2 separate regions of the Homo sapiens genome follow, and region 1 is linked to region 2. The links come from fine-mapping of genetic effects on gene expression. A gene starts in region 2. The other region holds a variant in brackets. All regions are shown on one strand. Distances are between the middles of the regions.

Region 1 (10,027 bases), 27 kb after region 2:
CCCTGAGCTCAGCTGCTGCTGGCACTGGCCTCCTCTCGCCACGACTGTTTTTGCAACTTTTTGCCGGTCATTTGAGAGAATGTTTCAGTCAGTGGGGTCCTCCCTGCTAAGCCCTTCATTCTGAATTTCTAAAAGTAAGGGGATGTGGTGTGTGACCGTGACACGGTGACCAAGTCTGGGAAGCTGGCTCCCCTGGCCACGCTCTGCCGTGTCTGCCACGCCCTCTTCAGTAGTTTACTTCTGCCTGGGACCTGCCTGGCGGCTCAGCTGACTCTTCTCTTGGGCCTGCCTCGTTGCCCTAGGCAGCTGGCTGCGCGTTGGCAGGGCCCGGACGGGCAGGTGGGTAGCGGCAGCCCCGGGGGGCCGGTGCCCTATCAGAGGCGTGGGAGGCATCAGGAGCAAGCGGCCCCCATGCTTTTCTCAGGGGAGCCTCTCCCTTGGTAATTAATGAGTAATCCGCCGAGGGGAACTTTGGACCCCAAAAGTCCCCTGTCCCCATGGACTTTATCCGGGTGGGCCAGGATCCCTGGTGAGTCTGCTTGTCTTAGGGATGGGGACGTGGGGCACTGACCGCACTCTTGGCCACTGCTGCTGCTGGAGTCTCGCCTTTCTCCTCCCGCCTGCCTTCTTGCCGTGTAGTAGCGCTGCGGACCGTGTTCGGAAAGAGTCACTTACTGTCCGTTCTAGTCACAGTTTTGATGCCCAAGTTGACCTTCTGTTGGCTGCCCACAGGTCTGGGTATCTGCTGATGTTCTTTTATTTATTTATTTTTTGTAGAGATGGGGTCTCACTCTGTGGCCCAGGCTGGTCGTGAATTCCTGGGCTTGAGCCATCCTCCCGCCTGGTGTCCCACAGTACTGGGATTACAGGTGTGAACCCCCGCTCCCTCCCCCTGCCCCAGCCCCTGCTGAGGTCTTATTTCAGAGCCGGCAGGGTTTTCCCAGCTCTCAAGCGCCCTCACGTCCCACCACAGTGACGTATGGTGTGTTCACTCCTGTCCTGGTCCCCAGGTCGTGTGGGGCCATCGAGGCTCATCCCCAGCTGCAGCCGCCCTCCTTTCCCTGTAGAGCCCTCGCCTGTGTAACGGTTACTGCCTCTGTGTGGGCAGCATCTGGGGGGGCTGGCGCCGGGCAGTGGGAGACCTGCTCCATGTCACTGGTGGAACCCAATGTATGTGATAGGTTCACAGGTCTCAGCTGTGAAATTGTGTTTGTACACGGTGGCTTTTTCTAGAAAAATGAACCGCAAAGTATTTCTTTCCTCGTGAATGTCGACCATTTTCTCGAGTCTGGTTGTTGTTGGCCAGTGACACAAACCTGCAGCTTCTCCCCTTCTTGCTTCCCTCCCCGCCCCTTGGCTCCGGGCACAGCGTGGCTGAACCGGCTTATCTGGCCTCGTCTCTGGAGGCCTCCCCAGCTGTCATGTCCGTTGACATTTCACTGTTCCTGGCAGTGGCTGTGCCCAGACGCGCCGTGGCACGTGGGAGTGATGCTGGTCTTTGCCAGTGCTCTGCACACCTGTGGGGAGGCCTCTCGGGGTTTCCTGCCAGGTCTCTGTGCACCCCCCGGTGAGAGATCTGAGGAGGAGGAGGAGGAACCGAGGGCAGGTAGGGCGCTCTTCAGATGTGGAGGGTTGGAATCTCCAGTTTAATAACAAACTTTATCCTACCTTAAGTTTTCAAAAGTCTTGTAAAGAACGGGTCCATTCATTTTTAGCTGCTCCGTGAAAGGTGAGAAAGCTGAGTAGGGGGCTGTGTCCCAAGACCAGGGTTTGCTGTGGCCTGGCTCGATTGAGAATCCCCTGGGCCCCAGGAGGGTGCTGTGGCTGCTGAGGAGGCTGCCCCACGTTCTGATCCTGGTGCAGGGCTGCACTCAGCCTCCCCAGAAGCAGCTTGGTCCCGGGTCCCACCTGGCACTAACCTCTGCAGGGCCCCTTTATGTCATGGTGTTTTGGCCTGTGGAAGGCTTTCGTCCGTCTGAGCTGCTGACTGAGGGTCTTTATTTCCACACTCGAGAGAAACCTGGCGGCCCAGCAGTCAGTGCCCGCGGAGCAGGTACAGCTCAGGGAAGGGAGCAGCCCCTTGCTCACGGTCCTTTCTGGCACAGTCTGTGGCCCTCTGGAGTACCCGGCCAGCGTCCTCACAGCTGTCCCCAAACGCGTGGTATGGGTTCCTCCCTCAGGGCCAGCACCAGGCTGGTGCTCAGCTCTTCTGGAAGAGCCGTCCCATGGTCCCAGCGCATCCGTGGAAGAGTGAAATATTGAACGTTACAAGAAGGAAGTGAGGCCAGGCGCGGTATCTCGTGCCTGTAATCCCAGCACTTTTGGAGTTGGCGATGGGCAGATCACTTGAGGTCAGGAGTTTGAGACCAGCCTGGATCAAAATGGCAAAACTCCATCTCTACTGAAAATACAAAAATTAGCCGGGCGTGGTTGCAGGTGCCTGTAATCCCAGCTACTTGGGAGGCTGAGGCATGAGAAGAGCTTGAATCCGGGAGGCAGAGGTTGCAGTGAGCCCAGGTCATGCCACTGTACTGCAGCCTGGGTGATGGAGTGAGACCCTGTCTGAAAAAAAAAAAAAAAATAGAGTTGCTAAATTGGAGTAAATATTTCATAACGCGATTCAGTTCAGTTGCTTTAGCTGCTCTGTGAGTCCAGCACCCGCCTGCAGCGCAGCCTCCCCTGTGGAGTCTGGAGCACCCAGGCCTACATCACAGGCTCCAGAGCACCCGGGCCGGTATCACGGGCTCCAGAGCACCCAGGTTGGTATCATGGGCTCCAGAGCACCCAGGCCGGTATCACGGGCTCCAGCACAGCGGGCAAAAGGTGGGAGGCTCCCCAGACTTTAGGTGTCTGGAGTTATCCATAAAGGGGGCTTCCTGAGTTTTGGTGTATCCCTTGGTTTACAACCCAGGGAGAAGCCTGGCCACTTGTGAGTGCAGGTCGTCCTTGGACACACACTTGGAGGAATCGGAAGGAACAGGACACGCAGCCTTATGTTCCTGTCAGCCCTTCCTGCACATATGCCCTGTCTCAGGGGGCTGCTGGCCTCTGCCAGGGCCTCCTCACTTTTGTTCCTGAGGACATCTTCCCAGCGCGTGTGCACTTACTAAATGAGCCACATGCCCCCAGTTCTGACAGCTAGGAACGGTGCGAGCAGATGGAGGATGGAGCTGGTGCTGCTGCCCACAGGGGCCCTGGGAGTGAGGCTGCGGGTCCCTCGTGCCCTGGTGCGGCCCTGGCTTGAGGCCTTGGTTTGGGGGTGTTGTGCCCCCCCTACCAGGGCTGAGAGCCCACAGTGACAGCAGAGGGGAGGTGTGTGCGGGGGCCGGGCATCGATGCTGGACTTGCTGAGGGTTGCTTTCTGGTGGTGTGCACACATCTTGGGCCAGAGTGGTGTCCCCAGAGTGCCTGCTGCTGGAAGAGAAGGCTCTGGGTCCTTCTGGATGCCCATCCTGGCTGTGTGGACCACGGCGGCAAGGGCCACGTGCCTGGTCGTCAGGCCACGGATGCTTGTCCGGAGCTGCCTCATGTGGCTCTTGCACAGAAGGCACCATTCTAGACATTCCAGGTGGGCTCCAGTGACCATGAGGGGCTGGGGTTGGCACTGGCGCTGCTCCTCTGAGGTGTTGGACCCACGTGGGAGCTGCTTGTTCCCCTCCAGACACTGATTGTGAAGAATCTGGAAGGTCCACGCTAGAGGAGGCCACGACCTGCTGGTGCGCCTGCAAGAGTGCTGGCCCAACTGGTCTCCATGCGTGGTGCCCGTTGGAGGGGGTGGGAGGGCTCGGCTCTGCTCTCCCCCCGTGGGTCTTCGTGTCACAGGGTGCTTGGGGGACTCTGCTGCACTGAGATCTCCAGCGTGACATGTCCCCGTCCCAAACAGCCCTGAAATGGCAATGCCTCATCCTAGGATTACCGTCCCTTCCCGAAGGCTTGAGGTCCTACTTAGATGTCTACTGGACTGCTTTTTATTTTAATTTACTTGATACTCAGTCTGGGTGCGTTGAAGACGCGGCCTCTGGCTGTCAGCCTGTCCTTGTGTGCAGTGACCGGTCTACCTGTCTGGCCTTGTGCCTAGACTTGTGGCCGTCACCACTATCTCTGGGGAGGGGTGAAGTGGACTGGGAGGTAGGAGCCGAATTGGAGTCTTCTCTTTGTTCCTGAAGTTATCACAGTCTTGGCCAGACTGTGGTCACTGCGTGCGTGTGTGTGTGTGTGTGATGCGCAGGGCATTTGCTGGTGGAATAGCACGGGCCATTGGCATTTGCACCTGAGGCGTGCAGCCCCCCTGCTGCACACCTATGGGGTCCCTGCGGTCAGGTGAGCTCTGGGGGGTTTCTGAGGGTGGAGACAGCCACAACAACACTTCTTTCCTCCAAATGCCTGTGCTGTGCACTTGGGTGCAGGTGGCTTTTAGGGGACATGGCTGGGCACTGCCCCACAGTGTCACCTCTGTGTCCTGTGGTGCGTGCTGTGGACTGGCACCACACCCCACGTGCTTGTTAGGCCAGTTTCTCTCAGGTGTCGGTCACCCTACCATGCGGCCTTTCTTTTGTCTTTTATCTTTAGCTAAGGAGTCCATGGCATACCAAAAGCTGAATGATGACAGCCAGTGTCCCCATCCTGTCCTCCCCAACTTTCCACAGGCAGGGACGCTCCCCATTCTTGCTGCATAGTCTTCTGTTGACCCCATGTACCTGAGTGACCCCCACGTACCTGAGTGTGACAAGCACTATGGTGCTTGACCTCAGTCCAGCTGCTTAGACCTGTACCTGCCACAGCCCCACGTGCTGACACCTTGCGTCTTGAGTTTTGATAAATCTATCCTTTGGCTGATTAATATGACTGAGTGGTGTCTTCTGACCCCATTTCTTATCTGGAACACTGTGTCCTGACTTCATTTCCTGTCTGGAGCACACTGTCCTGACCTCATTTCCTGTCTGGAACACACTGTGTCCTGACCTCATTTCCTGCCTGGAGCTCTCTGTGTCCTGACCTCATTTCCTGTCTGTGCCGCTCTGTCCTGACCTCATTTTCTGTCTGTGCCACCCTTTGTCCTGACCTCATTTCCTGTCTGGAACATGCTGTGTCCTAACTGCATTTCCTGTCTGGAGC[T/G]CTCTCTGTCCTGACCTCATTTCCTGTCTGGATCTCTCTATGTCCTGACCTCATTTCCTGTCTGGAACATGCTGTATCCTGATATCATTTCCTGTCTGTGCCACTTTGTCCGGACCTCATTTTCTGTCTGGAGCACTCTGTATCCTGACCTCATTTCCTGTTTGTGCCACCCTTTGTCCTGACCTCATTTCCTGTCTGGAACATGCTGTGTCCGGATTGCATTTCCTCTCTGGAGCTCTCTCTGTCCTGACCTCATTTCCTGTCTGGAGCCAGTGACCTCATTTCCTGTCTGTGTCACTCTGTCCTGACCTCATTTCCTGTCTGTGCCACTCTTTGTCCTGACCTCATTTCCTGTATGCAACACACTGTGCCCGGACTGCATTTCCTGTCTGGAGCTCTCTCTGTCCTGATCTCATTTCCTGTCAGGAGCACTCTGTGTACTGACCTCATTTCCTGTCTGTGCCACTCTTGTGTCCTGACCTCTTTTCCAGTCTGTGCCACTCTGTGTCCTGACCTCATTTCTTATCTGTGCCACTCTGTGTCCTGACCTCATTTCCTGTCTGGAGCACTCTGTCCTGACCTCATTTCCTGTCTTGTGTCCTGACCTCATTTCCTGTCTGGAGCTCTCTGTGTCCTTACCTCATTTCCTGTCTGTGCTGCTTTCTGTCTTGGAGTTGCGTGCCTGACCTCATTTCCTCTCCACTGTGTGTTCCTGGAGTTAGGCATCATCTTGGTTTTTACTCCCTTGCTTGGTTTTCTCAGGATCTCTGGCTGCTCCGTCCTTGCTCCAGCGTTCTTCTCTGCCCCCTCCCTCTGTGGTCCAGAGGCCGATGGCCAGCTGGCCCTCACCTGCCCGCCCTGGGTATTTCTGTGCTCTTCCTGGTGAGGGATTCTAGGGGTTCCCCTCCTGGGTTCATCCTTACCTGAGTAGCCACAGCACACTGTGCAGTTGGGTGCCTGGGAGGCACGTGCTTTGGGTGTTGCATGGCTGACCTGGTAACTGGGCACCCGTGTATGGAGGGCTGGAACAGAACACTTGTCGGCGCTCCTCAGCGTCTTGCCTCTGGTGTCCCCATGGCGAAGTCCCCTGCCATCTGCTTTGGGCTCTGACATGTGACCTGACTGTGCCCTTCAGGAGCTTTCAGAACCTCCTCTTAGATCTGGCATTCAAAATGTCTTGTCAGACACCTCGAGGCGGCTTGTGTTTGGCCCTGTGTTGGGCGCCTATTGGGCCCTTGTCAGGTTTTTGTTGCCAGGAGGCTCGCGCCCCGATCTTCGGGATGGTGCCCGTGGCATCTTCTGCTCGGTGCTCCCTAGGGCTGGACGTTGGTCCTCCTGGCACTGGTGCTCCGGTTGCTGTGGTCTCCCTGCTGTTCCCTTGTGGCTCAGGATTACTCTCTGGAGGTCTCCGCCTTATCATGAGCACTTTCTTTGTTGGCTACTTTTAGTTTCATGATTTCATTTTCGTTTCTAAGATATCTATCTCTTTGTAAAAGCTCCCACCTTTTGTGACTTGTGGATGCTGTATCTTTCTCCTGTTGCTGCAGACATTAATGATGTTTTTCTTGACAGTTTGTCCTGCTGGTTTCCTCTGCATTCCTTTGGTTGGTTTCAGACCTCGGCTTTAAAGGGGCATTTCCCCACATTGCCAATTCTTGACCATCTGGTCACGTCAAGGCTGACGTGCCAATGGCTGCAAGGGGGAGGGCACCTGGGAGCCCGCGGATGGCTCTTATGCAGACGTGCGGGCCAGCCCCGATCCTGCTTCTGCAAGGCCTCCCCTCCCATGGTGGCGCTTTGGTGCCAGAGCGCGTCGGCGTGGCTCCCTAGCGTCTGCCTCTGCAGCTGCTTGGCCCCCAGCCGCCTCCTCCCAGCTGCCTCCTGCCCTATGTGTGCTTGAGCTCGAGACAATGCTTCCTTCATCCAAGAGCCGGGCTCTCGGCGATTTTTGAGAGGAGAATGGGGTTGAAGCGATGTTGCTCTTCCGTCTTAAAACTGGATTTCTTTCCTCATGCTTTTGAATTATTATATCTTCTTGACATGTTTCTCTGGATTTGCAAAAGATTTTTATATTTTATATATTTATTTATTTACTTATTTATTTATTTTTGAGGTGGAACTTTGCTCTTGTTGCCCAGGCTGGAGTGCAATGGTGTGATCTGGGCTCACTGCAGCCTCCGCCTCCTGAGTTCAAGCAATTCTCCTACCTTAGCCTGCTGAGTAGCTGGGATTACAGGCATGTGCCACCATGCCTGGCTAATTTTGTAGTTTTAGTAGAGATGGGGTTTCTCCATGTTGGTTAGGTTGGTCTCGAACTCCCGACCTCAGGTGATCTGCCCGCCTCAGCCTCCCAAAGTGCTGGGATTACAGGCTTGATCCACTGTGCCCAGCCTGCACAACATTTTAAGTAAATGTTGACATTTTAAGCATTGAGCAAGGAAGAGTGTGAAGAGGTACTTTATAAAGGGAAATATGGCAATACTGATTATTTGCGACTTTAACCAGAAGTAATCTTTGGACAGCCAGATGTTATTGTCTTGGAATGTGGTGTTTTATCTAGTGACAATGTGTGTGCATGCACACGTGGACACACAGGATTCCTGGTCCTTAAACCCGTATGTTCGGTGTCTGCAGCATAGAATGGTCTCGGCTGGTATGTGTGGGACCAGCTCAGATGCCCCTATTCTAGATGCCGAGGCCGAATCGCCCCCTAGGGAGGATGGGACAGTGGCTGTGCTGAGCGTGCTACGGCGTCATGGAAGAACAGCAGAGGCGTTTGAGAATTGTGTTTTTTAAAAAGAGTTGAAACTTGTCAGTCAGGAAATGGAGTAACAGGTTTATCAGGAGTGTCATTTTCCTTTTTTTTTTTTTTTTCTCCCATGAGTGGCTTGGTCGGGGAACTCATGTTTTTTTTTGTTTTTGTTTTTGAGTCAGAGTCTAGGTCTGTCACCCAGGCTGGAGTGCTGTGATGTGGTCTTGGCTCACTGCAACCTCTGCCTCCCAGGTTCAAGGGATTCTCCTGCCTCAGCCTCCTGAGTAGCTGGGATTATAGGCGCCTGCCACCATGCCCGGCTAATTTTTTAATTTTTAGTAGAGACGGGGTTTGTTGGTCAGGCTGATCTTGAACTCCTGACCTTGTGAGCTACCCACCTTGGCCTCCCAAAGTGCTGGGATTACAGGCGTGAGCCACCGTGCCTGGCGGGAGCTCATGTTTTATCTGAGGTGGCCCAGGGCCCCACCTGGGAGCAGGGTCAGCAGTGCCTGGCCCTTGAGTGTTTGCCTCGGGGTGTGTTCCTTTTAAATCAGATCAGCTCATCACTTGGCCGGTTTTCTAGACCAGCATATTCAAACCCAAGGTTTGGAATCTTGGGCTGGCTTCTGAAATGACATGCTGTGGGCTCCATCCCCAGAATTCTGGGTTCCCAGGTCCGAGGTAGGGACTGAGAATGTGCATCTCTAGCAAGTTCCCAGATGACATGGTGGCTCCTCCGGAACCCCTGCCTCCTTTTGTGGGTAAAGTTTTACAGGTGCATGGCCACGCCCCACCGCCCTCGCCGGTGCTGTCTGTGGCTGTTTTGTGCCACAGCAGAAAGGCTGAGTAGGTGCGAGAGAGACCATGTGGCCTACAAACCCAAAATATGTGTGATTTGGTCCCTTACGGAAAACACTTGCAGGTTCCTGATCTAGAGAAAGAATAATTGTAACGCAGGGCTACATTGTTTTTGTGAAACTCTTTAGGATGGAAAAGGGCATCTCTGAGGTCAGCGACAGAAGCCGTGGTGGTTTCATGCCACCAGTTTACCTTTGTCCTGAGCTGTGGAGGTTGTTTAAAGCTATAGATCAAATGAAGCCTGGAATATAAGGGTGCAGTTAGGATGATTGCTGTGTAGTTATTTTTTAAAACGGCTTTTTGAGGCATAATTAACATAAGCTGCGTATATTTAAAGATACAGTTAGATAACTTTTGATGTATGCAAACACATATAAAACATGTATAAAACCCTCGCTGCCGTCCAGATGATGAACCTGTCCGTCACCCAGAAGCTCTCTCCTACCCACACCCCTTTCTCCCCAGGCTGCAGCAGTCTGCTTTTGGGCCTGTAGATTCGTTGCCTTCCTTAGAGCTTTGTCTAAATGAAATCCTACAATATGTTCTTCTTTTGGTCTGGCTTCCTTCCCTCAGCGTCATTATTTTGGGCTCCTTGGATGCGTGGCGTGTGCTGGGCAGTGTTCCCCTGCGTGGATGTCGCGTTTGTTCCTCCATTTGCCCGTTGGAGCGTGTGGAGTGTTTCCAGTTCTTGACTGTCACAAAGAAAGCGGCTGTGAACATTCGGGTACAAGTTGTTGTCGGGATACACGGTTTTATTTCCCTGGATAGATACCTAGGTGTGGAATGGCTGGATCATATATTTGTGCTTATGTTTAACTTTTAGAAACTGCCAGACTATCTTCCAAGGTGGCTGCACCATTCCTCGTCCTACCAGCAGTGAGTGAGAGTTCCTGCTGCTCCACGTCCTGGCCAGCGTGTGTGGTGGGCGGGCTTAGGCGTTCAGCCGTCCTGATGGGTGTGCGGCGGCATCTCCTTGAGGTTTAAGTTGCGCTTCCCCAATCGTTGAGAACGTAGAGTGGCTTCTCTTGTGCGTATTTGCCACCATATGTCTTCTTTGGTGAAATGTCCCTTCTGATTTTTGCCAGTTATTTTAGACTGGGTTTGTTGTTTTACTGTTGACTCGTGAGATCTTTACGTATTCTGGATGCAAGTCCCTTTTCACATTTGCGCCTTACGTAGACTTTGTCCCTGTCCATGGCTTTCCTTTTCTGAACGGTGTTTTTTGAAGAGTAGAACTGCAAAATTTTTATGGGATCCAATTTTTCAGTTTGTTCTTTTTCTTTTTTTTTTTTTTTTTTTTTT
Region 2 (10,027 bases):
CAAAGGTCTTTCTAAAATTTCTACTGGCCGGGCACGGTGGCATAGCCTGTAATCCCAGCACTTTGGGAGGCTGAGGCAGGTGGACCACCTGAGGTCAGGAGTTCAAGACCAGCCTGGCCAACATAGTGAAACCCTGTCTCTACTAAAAATACAAAATATTAGCTGGGCATGGTGGCAGGCGCCTGTAATCCCAGTTACTCGGGAGGCTGAGGCAGGAGAATCGCTTGAACCTGGGAGATGGACGTTGCAGTGAGCTGAGATCGCACCATTGCACTCCAACCTGGGCAACAAGAGCGAAACTTCATCTCAAACAAAAACAAAAACAAAACAAAATTATACGAAGCTGATGTTACTTGAGCAATTTTTATTTTCACATTTGAAGGTTTCTTTCCCAGTAACTGAGCATGTTTTTGCCAATGGCAGTCTATGCCTGGCTGCTACAAGGCCTTCCTTCTGCTTCCTGAGGAGGAGAGAGTGGGTGGCAGCAGGGCAGGGCAAGGCAGGGTGGAGCAGAGCTGGTCTGCGATGCATTTCCCCACCAAGGTTTCCAAGTTCCCCCAAAGCTTGGGGTACCCCTTGCTTTGCCAGTGTCTTCCTCTTTCTGGTCCTGGGGCGCCATCCAACTCATCTCCACACTGCTGGCTCCTTAAGGTGGGGGTCTCAACTCCAAGGCCAGCCTCCCAGGAGGCCCTCCCTGCCTACAGCCAGCCCCAGCCACTCCGCGCCTTTTGGGGATCTGAAAGATCTCGCTCCCGTACTAGCAGGTTTGTTGATTGACTGTTGTCTCTCACACCAGAATGGAACCACACGGGGTACAACCTGGTCTCCTTACCCTGATCCCAGTGTCTACAGTGGTAGGAGCTCATCGAACAAGGGGACAAACTCATGACTAGCTGACCAAGCCTGTCACCGTGGTAGGGGCCAGGGAGAAAGCTGGGAGGTCCCTGCCTTTGCCCGCATGCCAGGGCTTCTCTGGGCAGGCACCACGTCCATCCCACCCTACTCCGCGCTGTGGCTGTGCCTGCAGCCTTAACCCGCGGCCTGCCAGTATGGTGGCCCGCGTGGGCGACTGGCCTGGGCAGCTGCTGGGCGGGGCTGGAGGGTGGAAGGCCAGCAGGCGGGAGACACCCCCCACCCTCTTCCCTGCCAAGCTCAGGAAGAAAAGTGGACCCTGGTGGCTCCCTCTAGGCGTGGCTGCTCTGACCCTTGGTGGGGTGGGTGCCTTCCTCTGGAAGCTCTGACATATTGGGGGAAGGAAGTCTCAAGAGTCCACAAAGGTGGAGGTAGCTTCAGAGACCAACTGGAGGCCCTCACCTGTCCCCGCACCTTCACTCCATGGCACACCTATGGCTACTTCCCAGGGGTCCGCACTCTGGACAAAGTGTTGGTCCCTGGCTAGGACCCTGCAAAGCCAGAGGCACAGAAGGAAGCAGAGGCTCTGGGTGGGCACTGCCCATGCTAGGGGCCCTGCACAGAGCCCCTGGTCCACCAGAGGAGCCAGAGGAATTCTCTGCTTGATTGGAGACACTTCCCAGCAGGCCTGGCTGCAACCACCTTCTCTGAGTTACAATTTGACTGAGTTGTATGGAATTCAAATCCAGATGGAAGGAAGTGACAACGTCAAGTGCAACACTAGCTGTGTTTTGTCCAAAACGTGGGCCAACGAAACTATCTCCAGGAAAACAAATAAGTCCCTTTTCTATTTTTTTTTTTTTTTTTTTTGAGACAGAGTCTCACTCCATCGCCCAGGCTGGAGTGCAGTGGTGCAGTCTCAGCTCACTGCAATCTCCACCTGCCAGGTTCAAGCGATTCTCCTGCCTCAGCCTCCCGAGTAGCTGGGATTACAGGCATGTGCCACCATGCCCGGCTGATTTTTGTATATTTAGTAGAGAGGGGGTTTCACCATGTTGGCCAGGCTGGTCTCCAACTCCTGATCTCAAATAATCCACCCGCCTCAGCCTCTCAAAGTGGTGGGATTACAGGCGTGAGCCCCTGCGTCTGGACTGAATATCCTTTTTTTTTTTTTAGACGGAGTCTCGCTCTGTCGCCCAGGCTGGGGTGCAGTGGCGCAGTCTCGGCTCACTGCAAGCTCCGCCTCCCAGGTTCACGCCATTCTCCTGCCTCAGCCTCCTGAGTAGCTGGGACTACAGGCGCCCACCACCACGCCCAGCTAATTTTTTGCATTTTTAGTGGAGACGGGGTTTCACCGTTAGCCAGGATGGTCTCGATCTCCTGACCTCGTGATCCGCCTGCCTCGGCCTCCCAAAGTGCTGGGATTACAGGCATGAGCCACTGAGGCTGACCCTTTTTTTTTTTTTGAGACAGGGTCTGTCTCAAAAAAAGGGTGTGTCCCTATCACCCAGGATGGAGTGCAGAGGCTCAAGCACGGCTCCCCGCAGCCCCAACCTTCTGGGCTCAAGCAATCTTCCCACCTCAGCTTCTCAAGTAGCTGAGACCACAGGTGCAGGCCACCATGCCCGGCTAATTAAAAAAAAAAATTATTTTTTGTAGACAGGGTCTCACTATATCGCCCAGGCTAGTCTTGAACTCCTGGGCTCAAGCGATGCGCCTGCCTTATCTTCCCAAAGTGCTGGGATTACAGGCGTGAGCCACCTTGCCGGGTTAAATATCACTTTTAAGGAAATGATCTTCTTACCCAGCTTTCTGGTGTGTGAACACACAGAGAAAGCCTGGCCTCCAATTGTGGGGGCCAACGGAGTGAATGGGAAGAGTCGGGGGACAGTGTGGAGTGTGAGGACAAGGAGACAACCCCCAAGGCAGCGGAGAGAGGGAGTATGGAGCCGCCCTGGGGTCACCTACAGGTAGGTCCTGGCTGCCTCTCTAGACACCTGCCCTGCCGCAGGTCCGGCCAAGACCTGCACAGGGACTCCGGGCCGGCTCCCCCAGGATAGGAACTGCGCCCAGGAGTGCTGGTTTGAGGCAGGTTCCAGCCTCCACTGGGGAAGTGAGGGGCAGGAGGTCCCAGCTGAAGGTCACTCAGGTTGCAGCGGCGTGGCCCTCTCGCCTCCGCCCAGCACCCAGGCCAGCTTGGGCACCCCCGGCCCGTGGGGCATGTCCCTCCGCCTCAGGCGAGCACAGACCGAGCCCTGCCCCTCCCCAAACACACCATTGCGTCCCTGCGCCCGCAGGCCTCGCTGGAAGCTGCCTCCCCTGGAGACCACCCGGCCGACTGTCCAACTTCGGGGCCCCGGGCTTCCCGCTCCCCGCCCTGCCAAGGCTTGAGTCTCTCCCACTGCGTGGCCAGGCGTGGAGGGCCGGCCGATCCGACCCCGAAAGACGTCTCAGCGCTCCACGGCCCCGGGGCGGAGGTCAGGGGTCTCGCCGGCCCGAACGCCGGGCCCCGCGGGGCCGAAGTCCTGATAAGCCACCTGGCAGGAGTGGCTGGCAGACCGGCTGCGTCTGGGGCACCGGGCGCCGCCCCTCCCAGGCCCGAAGCCCCCGGCCCGCGCAGCAGGGACACTCCGCCAGGGGCCGGCGGGCGGGGCGGGGCCGGCGCGGCCGGGAGCCGCGGACACTCGGCCACCGAGCCACCGGCCACGGCGCAGCGGGGGCCGCCGGGCTGCGCCGCCAGGGTCACGCGACGCGGTGCCCGTCTCGGCGCAGGGTCCCTGGGCGTGGCCGCTGTCCCCCTCGTGTGTGGGACCCCAGGTCACCGTGTGGCGTCCCGGTAGTGTGTGGGACCCCAGAGGCGTCCGGGGCCTCCCCGCTGTGTGGTGTCCCACCCTGGGAGAACCCCGGGTGCGTGGCGTGGCCCCCCGGCCGCCCCCAGCTGGTTTGCGGTCGTGGCGGGGGCCTGTGGGTTTCTGGGCCCCGACGGCGGCGAGACGGGCGCCTTCCCAGCGGCGCAGGAAGCGGCCTCGGCCGGAAGGGGGGCCCCGGGCGCCACCGCCGCCTCCGCCTCCGCCCGCGCCCAGCGGCCCTCGGCGGGCGGGGCCGAGCGGGGCCGAGCGGAGTCGAGCATGGCCGAGCGTAGCCGAGTCCCGGCCGAGCGGAGCCGAGTCATGGCAGGGCGGGTCCGAGCGTGGCCGAGTCCCGGGCGAGCGGAGCCGAGCGCGGCCGAGTCCGGGCGGGGAGCGCGCGTTCCTGGAAGAGCCCGGCTGGGGAGCGGGTCACATTCTTGGCCAGCGCTAGGGCTGAGGCGGACGCACGGCAACAAACAGCGCGGGGGGCGGGGCCGGCGCGGGGCGGAGCGGGCGGCGCGGGGCGGGGCGGCGCGGCGGCGGCGTGAGCTCAGCGCCGGGCGCTCAGTCCGAGCCGGAGCGAGCCGCCGGGAGGATGTGCGCCGAGCGCCCCGAGCCCCGCGCCGCCGCCGCGCTCTGAGGGCCGCGGGCGAGAGGCGCCTCCGCCGCCCCGGAAGCCGGGCGGGCGGGCCGCGGAGCCGGCGGGCGGGCGGGCCGGGGGCCGGCGGCGGGCGCGACGCGGCCGGCCAGCGCCGCCGGGACGAGCCGGGCGGGCGCCTCGCGGTGGGAGGAGCGGGGCGGCGGCGGCGCGCCGCGCGAGGACGGCCCGGCGGGCCCCGCGCCCGCGCCCCCGCTCCTCCCGGGCCCCTCGGCCTCGGCCGCCGCGGCGATTCGCGCCTCGCGGCGCCGGCACCTGCCCGCGCGCCCCCCGCGAGCCCCGGGCCCGCGAGCGTTGGCGTTGGCGTTGGCGGCGCGCGCCGGGGCATGCCCCGCGCCTAGAGCCCGGGGGGCGCGCGGGGGACGCGCGGGGGGCCCGGGCGGCGGCGGGCGCGGCGCGGGGCGCGTGGATGTGGCGCCGGGCCCGGGCGGCGGCGGGCTCCAGCGGCGGGACCCCTTCGCCCCGCCCGCCTTCCCCTTCGCGCCCCCGGGCGAGGCCGCGGCCGTGATCGGCCGTGAGCCGGCGGCGGGGGGCGGCCGGGGTCGGGGCCGCGGGCGCCGCCGGGGCGCGCGGGGCGGCGGCGGGGGCCGGGGGGGCCCGGGCGCGCGGGAGCGGGAGCGGCCGGGGGAGCCGGAGCGCACCATGGAGGCGGCGGCAGGCGGCCGCGGCTGTTTCCAGCCGCACCCGGGGCTGCAGAAGACGCTGGAGCAGTTCCACCTGAGCTCCATGAGCTCGCTGGGCGGCCCGGCCGCTTTCTCGGCGCGCTGGGCGCAGGAGGCCTACAAGAAGGAGAGCGCCAAGGAGGCGGGCGCGGCCGCGGTGCCGGCGCCGGTGCCCGCAGCCACCGAGCCGCCGCCCGTGCTGCACCTGCCCGCCATCCAGCCGCCGCCGCCCGTGCTGCCCGGGCCCTTCTTCATGCCGTCCGACCGCTCCACCGAGCGCTGCGAGACCGTACTGGAAGGCGAGACCATCTCGTGCTTCGTGGTGGGAGGCGAGAAGCGCCTGTGTCTGCCGCAGATTCTCAACTCGGTGCTGCGCGACTTCTCGCTGCAGCAGATCAACGCGGTGTGCGACGAGCTCCACATCTACTGCTCGCGCTGCACGGCCGACCAGCTGGAGATCCTCAAAGTCATGGGCATCCTGCCCTTCTCGGCGCCCTCGTGCGGGCTCATCACCAAGACGGACGCCGAGCGCCTGTGCAACGCGCTGCTCTACGGCGGCGCCTACCCGCCGCCCTGCAAGAAGGAGCTGGCCGCCAGCCTGGCGCTGGGCCTGGAGCTCAGCGAGCGCAGCGTCCGCGTGTACCACGAGTGCTTCGGCAAGTGTAAGGGGCTGCTGGTGCCCGAGCTCTACAGCAGCCCGAGCGCCGCCTGCATCCAGTGCCTGGACTGCCGCCTCATGTACCCGCCGCACAAGTTCGTGGTGCACTCGCACAAGGCCCTGGAGAACCGGACCTGCCACTGGGGCTTCGACTCGGCCAACTGGCGGGCCTACATCCTGCTGAGCCAGGATTACACGGGCAAGGAGGAGCAGGCGCGCCTCGGCCGCTGCCTGGACGACGTGAAGGAGAAATTCGACTATGGCAACAAGTACAAGCGGCGGGTGCCCCGGGTGAGTGGCCCCAGGCCTGGGAGCTGGGGAGGATGCGCTTGGGGTGGGGGCCCCTTCTGGACTACAGGCTCTGGTCTCCGAAGGCTGGGACCTGTGCTTCTGCCGTGCCCCATGTCTCCAGTCTTCGCTTTGTTTTAGGGAAATTCAGAGTGTTCCGACTGGCAGGGCCAGAGAGTTTGGTAGGAAGGCCCTCCTGCCCGTTCCCCAGGACGAGCCTGGAGTGCGGGCTGTGGCGGTGGGGTGGGGGGCCAGGCCTGGTGTGTGGGGAAGGCCCGCAGGCCCACAGGCATTGCCCAGATAGGAAGGCACAGGCCTCATGCTCCCGAGAAAGCGGCCTGCCCCAGGTCAGGGAAGTTAGGTCCAGCTGGGCCACGGCCCGGATGCCTCAGGCCCAGGTCTTTCTTGGGGTTGGGGTGAAGGTGGCTGTCCTCGCCCCGAAGGCACCCAGCCTCGAAGACGGAGGGCTGCCTGCCTTTGGGCCCCAGGAGACAGAGCTTGGGTGAGGCGAGGCCTGGTTTTGTTACTGGCTCCCGCTCCCTGTTTGGTGCCTTGAAGTTTTGGGACACAGACACAAAATGAAGCCAGGTGTCCAGGCTTCAGTGGCAGGGGCCCGAGACTTGGCGGCTCCAGCACTGTGCTGGTTGGTCTCCCTGGGCCTGCCAGGGACCAAATCCCAGAGTCCGCCGTGTGGGGTGAGGGCCATTTGGCACCCGGCTGAGGGGCCTGGTCAGCAGGCTCCTGGGCCCGCGTGCTGGAGTTACTGGCGGCCTGCGATTTGCTTTGGACTCACCCATTTCCTTCTCTCCCTCTGAAACGCAGAGGGGTGCGCCGGAGAGGGAGGCTGCTGGCCTGGCTTTGTTGTTTGCCAGTTGGAGGATCTATGGGATCCGGCATGGGCAGCTCCCAGGCCACGAGGTGCCGAAATTACTCAGTGGGGTCCTCAGGAACTTTCCGTTGCGTACCTCCCCAAGTATTTGTAACTTTTCTTTTAAATATCCAGGCTTATTAAATTGCACACACAGAATGCTGCATTGGCTCAGCTATTCTTGGGAGGCCTAATTAATTCAGCTATTGCATCAAACTTTTTTTTTCTAAATCTGTGAATAGATGCTCCAGCCCGGTTTTCTCTGGGCGCCCCTCCAGCAGAGTGTCAGATCGTGGGGAGGAGGGGCTGTGGATGGAAGCGAGGGACTGTCGCCTCTGCTCGGAGGGGGCTGCGGAGGGTGCATGTGTGTGTGCATGTGTGTGTTTGTGTGTGCGCGCTTCTGACCCTGCCAGGCCAGGGCTCAGGTGGCAGCCGCCTGCAGACCTGTGGGCTGGGGAAGGATGCTCGTGGCAGAGCTGCAGACAGACGTAGCAGGCTGGGGCCCTTCGTGTCACACGGGGAGTTGGTTGGGGTGGGCCCGATGGCGCTCCCTGTGGGCTGGGGCCTTTCTTTTTGGGGTGGCCGCACCCTCGTCAGTGCCTGTGGCTGGAGGAAGCCACATGTCGGGGGGGATTGTGGGCTCGTGCAGGCTGCGTAGTGGGTCACCTGTGGCCAAGGCCTGAGCTGCTGGGACACGCTCACGTCACTGTCTTCAGAGCTGATGGCAGAGGATCTCGGTTGAGCAGGGTGTGTCTGCGTTTGTTTTTGTCCGACTGTGGGTCATGTGTGTGCTTGTGGTCTTTCTGTCTTCCTGGGCTTTGCTGGGGGCCCATTGGAGTGGCCAGTGGGGCCTCGTTGTCACAGCTGACACAGAGCAGGGCCCAGGCCACCCGGCTTCTCTCTCCCTGTGGTTGTGAGCGCCGGGGTCCTTGGGCCGCCATAGAGACAGGCCAGACAGGCTCTGGTCATCTCAGCGGATGCCTCCGAGCCGCCTTTCCCTTTTGAAGTCCCCAGCACTGCTCTGAAATTTCATTTACCGATTAAAAAGCAATTCCCAGGCCATACTGACGACGTGCACGGTGTGAGTGACTGCGTCCTCTAGGCCTGAGTGGCAGCCACACAGCCTGGCCCTGGCAGTGGTGTCCTCCGCCTGGCTCCCTGAATGTTCACCAGCTCCTGCGGGTTTTCCTCTCCTCATGCTCCTGGGGGTGGGGCACCCATCCTGCCCGTGTTGCCTCCTGCTCTATGTTCTTGACGTGGGATGGCGGCCAGGGACTCTGCCCTCGCTCAGTGCCTGCCCTTTAGGCTCTGTGACTGTGCACTTGGGAGTTCTGGGCTTCAGGGTCCCCTTAAGTCTCCTCAGGACAGCCGTGTGCGTGTCTCTGTGTGCACAGGAGCGACACATGAGAAGGGAGTGTGGTCTCAGGGTGGGCGTGGACCCACAGTGCCCAGACCCTACTTGTCCTAGAAGGAGTGGCCTGGGAGGCCCCGCCTCCGCCCTCACTGGCCGCCGTTGGCTCCTCCCACTCGTGTCTTGACAGCTTATTCTCGGGATATGTTTTGATTTCTTCACTTCCTTTGTAGCTTATTTTAATATTTTTGATCTGCCGAAGATGAGGGCAGAACAAAGAATGTACTGGAACTCTCTTTGCAGGGCTGCTGCTCCCAGCAGGCCTTCGGGCTCTGCGGAGCCGGAGGGGGCTGAATTGCCTTCCGGGTGTTTGTGGCCAGGCCAGGGTCGGGTCTCCTGCCTGAGTGGGCTGGGTCAGCGCCACTCTCCTACCCATGGTGGGAGGTGGGAGAGGGCGGAGATGTTCCCGGGTCCCAAACCAAGTGGGAGGCAGGGCTGCAGCTTTCTCCTTGGAAGCCTCCTGTGACAGCGGCTGTGCCTGAGCCTCTGGCCTGTCGGCAGTGCAGTGGCAGCATGAGGGGCAGACAGTCTTCCTCCAGATGCCCCCTCATGTCACGGGGTTACAGAGGAAGCCTCCGCTTCTGTCCAGTGGCTGTCGGGCCCGGCCAGCTTCCTGCTGCTGTATCTTGGAAGACCATGTGGGCTGCATGGGTGCTTGGCGAGTCTCCTCTTAGGGACCCTGGGGCTGCTATCCTTGACAGGGGACCTTGTCTCACCTCCCCACTCGGTCCCACACTGGCTTTGTGACCTTGGACGAGTTGCTTAACCTCTCTGCCTCAGTGTAAACTGGGGACTACTGTTTATTGATCTTGGACTTTATGTTTTGAGTGGTACAGGTGGGGCACAGATGGGTCATTGTGCTGCTGGGAGCACTTAGCCAAGACTGGAGCCTCTGAGCCTTCCCCACTCCCACCCCTCTTTCTTCTTTCCGGTCGGCTCGCCTCCTTCCTCGGGTTCTCTGATAGCTGTAGGACTCCATTGGACTACATTTTTTTGTCAGTATAGACAGCTGTCAGAGACGGAGACAAAATGTGGCAGTTGGAGCTGCCGCTTGGCCTGCTGCCTGGGACGCGGCCCCTTGTCCCGCAGAACGTCAGCCAAGCGCTTTCCGTGCAGGCTGATAACAGGGTGGTGCCGTGCTTCCCTTGGGCCGTGGCAGGATCCTGCTCCAAGGGGGGGTCCTGCTCCGAGGGGGCCGGGGTTTCTGTTCCAACAGGGCTGGTGGGGGGGGTCCTGTTCCCAGAGGTCCGGGATCCTGTTCTGAGGGGGCCAGGGTCCTGTTCTGGGCCGGGGGTCCTGCTCCGAGGGGGCCGGGCGTCCTGTTCCTAGGGGCGGTGGGCTGCCTGTGTGAGAGCTGTTCTTCACCTGCCACGTGCAGTCTGGGCATTCTGGTGACTGGAGAATTTGGGTTGTGTTACAGTGTTGTTGCTCTGTCCTGCAGATGCCTGAATTCCCAGGGGTCTTGCAGGTCCCCTTGCCCTTGCGCTGTGTGGGCTGGCGTGGGTCTCAGTGGGCTGTGGGTTGAGGGTCGCTTGGTTGGGAAGCTCTGCGCGCTTCCCAGTGGAGGGTCCGCGACGGGGGTTTTCTGATCCCTCATGCTGGCTTTTGACCCGTGTCACTGCAAGGCTGCCCCTGGCCCCAGGCAGCGTTTCTTCAGGCAGGTGCCCAGCCAGGTGGTCGGGCTTGAGACCTTTGAGTCTCGAGGTCTGTTCTGGGGAATGACTGAGCTTGTGGAGGCCAGGAAGGGGTTGCTGGGCTTGGAGAGCCTCTGGGGAGGAGTT

Evidence for each region. PIP is the estimated chance that this variant, and not a neighbour inherited with it, causes the effect. A credible set is the group of variants that fine-mapping cannot tell apart.
Region 1: its variant is the best candidate, but not a certain one, in a credible set for the expression of SKI in whole blood (TOPMed, PIP 0.52).

What each region holds. Positions count from the first base shown.
Region 1 is chr1:2,250,531-2,260,557 of GRCh38, forward strand. All of the region lies in intron 1 of SKI (SKI proto-oncogene), which reads left to right. Among named protein-coding and RNA genes, the nearest start is that of SKI, 27 kb to the left of the region's middle. RefSeq lists enhancers at 5,020-6,219, 5,260-5,554, 6,222-6,819, 8,729-8,778. The variant T/G (reference allele first, on the strand shown) is at 5,116.
Region 2 is chr1:2,223,766-2,233,792 of GRCh38, forward strand. It overlaps SKI (SKI proto-oncogene), which reads left to right and starts at 4,554. Exons shown (of 7, transcript NM_003036.4): 1 at 4,554-5,970. The coding sequence starts at 5,002. RefSeq lists enhancers at 620-1,120, 2,475-3,295, 7,125-7,786, 7,433-7,482 and a silencer at 3,615-4,384.